Homo sapiens: one gene and its partner. The protein of the gene in region 1 purifies or fractionates together with the protein of each later gene. This does not show direct contact. Each region holds a gene or a part of one and is shown in the gene's direction. Other genes may lie near its edges.

Region 1 (3,500 bases):
ATCAGACCTCAAACCACCCAGGCTCAGGAGGAGGTTACTTCATACCCGGCCTCCAACTCTGGCCAAATAGTCCTGGTGTGTTGGGATGGACTTGCAAAGGTATAGAATAATACCTCTTAAAAGGCATATAATATGGGTATCTCTTTTCTCATTTCACTATGAGAACGTATACACACACACACAGACACACACTCTGCTTCCTGTGATGCTTTCCCTGCAGGTATGAAGAAGAAATAAACAAGCGCACAACTGCTGAGAATGAATTTGTGGTGCTTAAGAAGGTGAGGAGGGTGCATGGGTTCCCTTCAGTCCCCCAGCAGTGGGTGCTGGGCTAAGAGAGAGGAGCAGCTGAGGTCTGAGCCCCCCGCAGAAGGGCCTGGAGCCAAAGTGCTGAAGGAGGAGATGAAGGGCTTGCTGCTTGGGACATTTTGGGACACCTGGTGTTGGTTTAGCACACAGTACTTTGTCTGTGGACAGGAACCTAGATGTGGATAGTCAGTCCCAACTCATGTCCCCTCTGGCTGGGGAACAGGACAGGCTTTGGGAGGGGCTGCAGGTTTGCCTTCCAACTCTGCTAGTTTCTGGCAAATCGCCGTGGCTGTCCTTGCCTCCCTCTGTTGGCTGAATGACTGGCTGAGTGGGGTATAGAGTCTCACACCCTTCTCTGAGAAATAGAGGCAGAAGGAGTTCCAGAGGCATGAGAAACTTGCCCCAGGTTTCGCAGTGAGTCTGACAGTGAAGTTGTGGCTGGAAGGCCGGTTCCTGCCCCTTGGATCTGAAGTCCTGGGCAGCTAGCTAGGGCAGGGCCTGCAGGTGTCAGTTCGCTGGAGAGGCCTGTCTGGGCTTGAAGAAAGGTGAGGTCAGGGGTATCTGGATTCTCCATAGGACGTGGACGCAGCTTACACGAGCAAAGTGGAGCTGCAGGCCAAGGTGGATGCCCTGGATGGAGAAATCAAGTTCTTCAAGTGTCTGTACGAGGGGGTAAGGCTCCCCCTGCCCCACCTCTGGCTCTGTCTTCTGGAAGGACAGATATGTGATGAACAGTTTCTTACTTATCTGTAACTTAAGCAGTCCAGGGCACCTCCAGCATTGGGGTGCTGAGAAATTTGTAGATCAAAGGTGGGAGTGGCCATCTATCCTGGTGCCCCATCCATCCCTGACTGCCCTGAGGATGTCCTGCTTTCACTTCCTCCAGGAAAACAGAGTCCTTAAAGGGTTCCCACTGAACTTCAGCCAAGCATATTCTCATTCCTGCTTCTCTTCTCTCTGTGGCTGGGGATGTTTCCTGGGGTCTTGGGCAGGAATCCCCAGGGATAGAGGTAGGAAGTCCTCATACCCCTTCTGCCTTCTCTATGTACATCTGGTTTCAAGCCTCAACCTATTGGCCAAGCATTTCTGGGCTCCTGTGCCCCTTAGTGTCCCATGTGTGGCAGCCAGGCTGTTGTCTTCCACCTTCCCCACTCCTGTCCTGTCTCAGGGGACAGACATATGGGCTGTTTTCTTCCTGGGCTGCTTCAAACCCATTCAGCAGTTTTCAGATGTGGTATTGGAACCTCTGGGCTGTGAGCTCTGTTCTTACAAGCTTTGGGAAGTGCAGCTTCCATCTGTGTGGGATGGTCTAGGGCCATCCCTCTGGGACAGGGCCATCACCTTGGGACCTTTCTCTGGTCACAGAAGGCATTTCATGCTTCCTTGTTTCCCCTGCAGGAGACTGCTCAGATCCAGTCCCACATCAGCGACACGTCCATCATCCTGTCCATGGACAACAACCGGAACCTGGACCTGGACAGCATCATTGCTGAGGTCCGTGCCCAGTATGAGGAGATCGCCCGGAAGAGCAAGGCCGAGGCCGAGGCCCTGTACCAGACCAAGGTGAGGCCGCAAAACTCCCCATAGTGAAGTATGCAGGGCCCTCTGCTCCAGACTCTGTCTTGTCTGCCCCATGACTCACTGTGGTGGCCCATAGCTTGCTGGGAGCACAGCACTCTCCTGGGCACTGGGGGAAGCCAAAGGGGAGGAGAAGACACAGCTCTGTCCTTGGCACCCACTTAGATCAACAGCACCCCTGGAGGATGCACTCAGCTGAGTGCAGGTGAATGTGGTGTAAACAGAGTCCAGACTGAGGAACTAGGACCAGGTGGGGCAGGTCAGAAACCACTCCCTGGAGGCAGAGAGTTCTGTCTGGAGGGGAGAAGCCACATGAGTAGTTGGCATCTCAACTCCCCCGCTAATTATCATAAATGAGGGGGTCTCTTCAGTGTGATCTGGAATCAAGTAATTTCTACCTTTTCATTCAAGTCTAACTCCAAGGATAAAGCAGAAGTTTGAGGCCTCAGATCTTAACTCCCCTAATGGTAGTGGGTGGGAAGTGATTCTTTAGATAATTTGGTTTCTCAGATCAAGATGGCAACTTCCTGATTGTTCCTTGCTGTTTATCAGGCTCTTTCTCAAGGGAATCCACACTCTTGGGAGATCTTATCTCATCCCTCTCCCTGCCTCCTTGCTAGCCTGCAGTGGTGGAGGAGAGAGGCTTTCAAGGTCTAGGAGACATAGGCTAGGGCTTCTTGGTAAAGGTTCAAACTCAACTCTTCAGTCCCCAAAGCCTTCCACATTAGTGTTGCAAGCTAGGGTCAGGAATGCCCAGAATCATAACAGTATTATTATTGCTTATTTTGATGATTCCTTTTTAAAGATAAAGAACGTAGGGCCCAGGGAGTTCAAGCTACTTACCAAAGGCAATAGCTGACAAGTGACGCAGCTGGATCAGAATCTAGGTGACTGACTTCAAATTCCACTGCATTTAGGCAGAAAATCAGAAGGTGACTCTGGGAAAGAAGCATTTACTCTAAGGGCTTTGTGTGGCTTGACAGAGGAGTGGCAGGAAGATGTTCATCTGTTTGCCTCAGAATGAAGCTGCTTGGTGTCAGAACCAGTGTACGGGGAGGCATCCTGCTCACACAGCCTTGCGGAGAAGCAGGAGAAGGCCCCTTGTTTAGGGTTGGCACCAAAGATAAAATACAAGGAGTGAAGAGAGAAGCCCTTCTGCCTTCTCTGCTTTCTGGATAACTTGACATCTTTAGGAACAATCCTAAATCTTGGGCCATGCTGGGGTGGAGCACCCAGTGACAGAGACAGAGCAGTACACCAGAGTGCTGAAGGGTCCCTGTTTTGTTTTCCCCTTGAGCCACATTCTGAGTAGAACTGATGTACTCTCTGTGACTGTTTAATAGATGACAACAAAGACAGAAATAATCCCGAATTAGTAGATGACCTAAAATTCATGGCTAGTGGTTTTGGGGTATAGCTGAATCCACCCCCATCATGCACACAAAATGTTCCTCCATGCTAATCCCTCCCTCCATCCCAGCCCTGGAAAGCTGCCTGTGGGCTGGGGCCCAGCTAAGGTATCAAAGGGAGGGAGTCACAGAAAATACAGATGGACAGCTCATTGGCTCACTCATTCATTCATCAGACTTTTTTTGAGCACCAACTAGGCACTA
Region 2 (3,500 bases), on another chromosome or scaffold:
ATAATTTAGGATTGAAGTAAAATGCTCTTCCACATAGAAACTCTGGTTCCTTAGGATTTATATTTGGATGATATAGAGTAAGCATCCAGTTTTCAAAACCGCCTTATCCATTGTTTAAAGTGTTAATGAGTTCTTATGATATCAAAGTGGGACTTAAAATCTATTTATAATTTGTAAGGAAAACATAATTAGGACAAATAAGGGTTCATTTGGTCTGTGAGTGCCATGCAATAAGTTCTTCACAGGGTTGCATCATCCTTCTGAAAGACACAAGACTATCATTTTGTGTACTAAAGCTGTAATATAAATGAATGATTTGTGAGTTTGAATTCTGGGTTAAGGGTGGAGATACGGGGGTGTGAGATGTGACACGTGGCAGGCTATGGTTGCGACCTTGCATTTGAGCGCTTCCCATGGGTTCTCTTCCTCCTAAGCCACAACAAATCCAAAGAAGGAAGGAAATCAAAGGCTCAGGTAAAGGTGGCAGCTCTGGCTCTGTGGAGGATAAAGATTCTATGTCCATCTAGATGGCCCGACACTCTACCAGAGTTCCTGATTCTGGTGCTTGGAAGAGCAGAGTTAAATCATCTTCCTAAGTACTTAGGGCCAAAGAGTGACTTAGCCATAGAATGATGGTCAGATGTTTGCTGCATTCATTTCTCTCTGGGAATGTGAATGCCCTAATTTCTCATAAAGATTATTACAGAAATACTGCAAAATAGAAATACGTAGTACTTTGCCATTTGCTATTATAGTGAAGGGATTTGGACTTTTCCTCTGTTCAAATAAGTTAGAAAAATGGAATACTTAGGTAAATAAGATCTTGGTGAAATATTTTGTTGGTTATCTCCAGTGTTCACCACATGCAGAGGAGATAAGACATCTCAGCAGCGGCTAGGTACTAGCAAGATGGTGGCAACCAACTGGCAAGGCCTTTGCCCTTCTGGAGCCTCCATTTCAATAGAGTAAGGCTTAGAGGGCCAATGCGTATCATAAATGGAAGATAGGAGGACTAGTTTTTAAAAGTTGACTGTTGAATAATGAAATACAGACCAATTAAATATCTTTGGGGTTTATTTGGATTTGAGTTTTTATAGAAACTTAAATGTATATTTTTGCTCGTAGATATTTTGTGGTTCTCTCAACTACAAAGTTGTTTATGTTTTTAAGAACAATTTTAAAGACCATTTGATGCTTGTGATTTTTATGGTAACATATTAATATGACTAGATATATTTTGAAACATAGTTTTATGGTCCTATTAGCATTCATCAGTAACCAGTTGCCTACACCTCTGAATAATAGTAAATGGTTTAGTATTACTGAGCTCAAAATATTTGCACTTTTGTCACTTAAATTGTTTATATTGATCAGTCCCTGAATTGTAAGAAACTTCATACTGAAACCTCACATTTAGGCTGTGAGTTTGATATGAGTCTTTTCTAACCCACAGAGAACATTCACTAGAAATGAAGCCAGAAGTTTAAGGACAGCGGGATTTTGAAGGACAATGAAAATCCTTAGAAAGTTCCCTGATATTCGTGTTTGCCATTCTCCTCTCCATGCTACAGCCCCCAGTCTACTTCAGTGATGGAGCTGGAGGCCAGCAGGACCCATTGGTTAATTGTATAGTCTTCCATTTGGTTAGTCCAGGGAATAGTTTCCCACAACTTCTAGCTTCTCTTCCTTACATGAAAGTTGGTACAGGGATTTGACACTTAGTATAACAGATAAGAGACTTCTCTCGGGGTTTTTGGTGGGTTTGTTTGTTCTCCTGCTTGGCCTCCTTAACAGCTACTGTCTTGTGCGACCAAAGCTATCAACTTTGTTCCCCGCCTAAAAATTACAATGCCTGCTGTTGGTAGGAAAGGAATAGACATCTCATTTTTATCACCCCCTGAGTGGGGTGCTTGAGCAAAAGAGGTTACCATTTCCTTTATTTATAGGCTTCTTTCATAGTGATCAGAAAAGGGGTTATGAAAATATTCACTGTCATAATAAGTCTTGGGACATCCTTAAGAAATGTCATCACTGCCTTAACCCATATGCTGTGGGGTTGTGTTTACCAATAATAGATTGCAGTTCAAGAATTAGCATTGTCTAAAGTTATTGAGATATACTGTGTATTGTTTCTTCACAGATATATTTCACAGTAAAGGGACCTTCTATATAATTAGGGTGTTGTTTAGGGAGTTGATTACAGGTTTAGTCGTTTAATACATACACAGGAGATAACTCAAGACATCTCAGCAGCATCTATGTACTGGCAAGATGGTGGCAACGAACTGACAAGGCCACTGTCCTCCTGGAGCCTCCATTTCAGTCATTTACAGAGGATTGCGCCCTCCAGGACTCCATCCTCTTGTGCTGCCTGCCATTGGAGCATTGTATTCAGTGGCCTCCCACAGAGAGTATCAAAACTAACCCAGTATGTGGAGACCTATGTCAGTCTATTTATTTTTCTATCTCTGTGGGGCTGGAGAAGGAAATAAACATAAAACTAAAGATTTAAAGATTACTTTTGATTTCACTTAGTTTTTTTATAACATCCTTGTGTTATGGGTAGTTTCAGAATCTCAAGAATGAGCAGAGAATAGATTTGCTGTGTTTATCAGAGTAGAAACTTCTGATAGTCTGCCCTAAAAGAATTTAATTGGCTGATTTGACCCTTTATTATTATAGTGTTACCCCAATTAATCACATTTACAGAAATGACTTTCTTTAAGTAGAGAACATCAGTTCTTGGCTAAGCCTCTCTAATATGCCCGTTTGTTCATTGCCCTTTCTAGACGGAGTGCCAGCATCCATGGGGGCTACCTGGGGAGGTGAGCAGTAAAGGGGTCTAATTACAGAGCCATATGAGTTTGCCGAAGGAAGTCCACAGAGGATGAGCATGGCTGCTGCTGTGGCCTGGGTGACGGGATCCCTGCTCCGAGGTGGTGCCATTGAAACTGAGATCTGAGGGAGGAGGAGACCTAGGCATGAGAAGAGCAGGGGGAGGCACCAGGATCAGGGGTGGCACCAGGACTAGGTCAGGCCTCTCTGGGAACAGAACACCACATACCTGGAGATGGTGAGCAAAGGGTGGGATGGCATCGACAACAGATTAGAGGCTGGGAAGGCCTGTGATCCCTGAGTTAGAGCTGGCATTTAGACTGCTTCCAAAGAAGATGAAACTTCTGCTGCCATGTTGTGTATTGGGAGCTGGCTGGGGAGGTGATAGGATATGAGAAAGGGACAAAAAAGCAATTGATGGCATAGTTGAGTCTGATAGAGAGTTTAGGCTTTATCTTACGGGCTATGGATGGGCAGTGGTGTATTTTAAAAGAGGAATATTTGTTTGTGTATTGTTTTAAAGTCACTCCAATGCAGTGCTGCTGGGTGTGCTCTATAAAAGCCAAGAGTGGAACCAGCGGCCGTTTCAGCAGGTGCTGCAGTTGTTCAGATGGAAAGTGGGATGCCCTGGGCCAGGTTTGGCAGTGGAGGCGGACACAGCAGCT

What was found. Proteins that work in one complex are often made in the same cells at the same time.
Region 2: the proteins of KRT73 (region 1) and GAN purify together in Homo sapiens (affinity purification with mass spectrometry; one large-scale study listed by BioGRID and IntAct). This does not show direct contact.

What each region holds. Positions count from the first base shown.
Region 1 is NC_000012.12:52,612,060-52,615,559, reverse strand, and holds part of KRT73 (keratin, type II cytoskeletal 73), read left to right. Parts: intron 1-220; coding exon 221-281; exon of another isoform or gene 282-885; coding exon 886-981; exon of another isoform or gene 982-1,707; coding exon 1,708-1,872; exon of another isoform or gene 1,873-1,996; intron 1,997-2,730; exon of another isoform or gene 2,731-3,219; intron 3,220-3,500. UniProt on the Homo sapiens protein: Has a role in hair formation. Specific component of keratin intermediate filaments in the inner root sheath (IRS) of the hair follicle.
Region 2 is NC_000016.10:81,321,462-81,324,961, forward strand, and holds part of GAN (gigaxonin), read left to right. Parts: intron 1-3,500. UniProt on the Homo sapiens protein: Probable cytoskeletal component that directly or indirectly plays an important role in neurofilament architecture.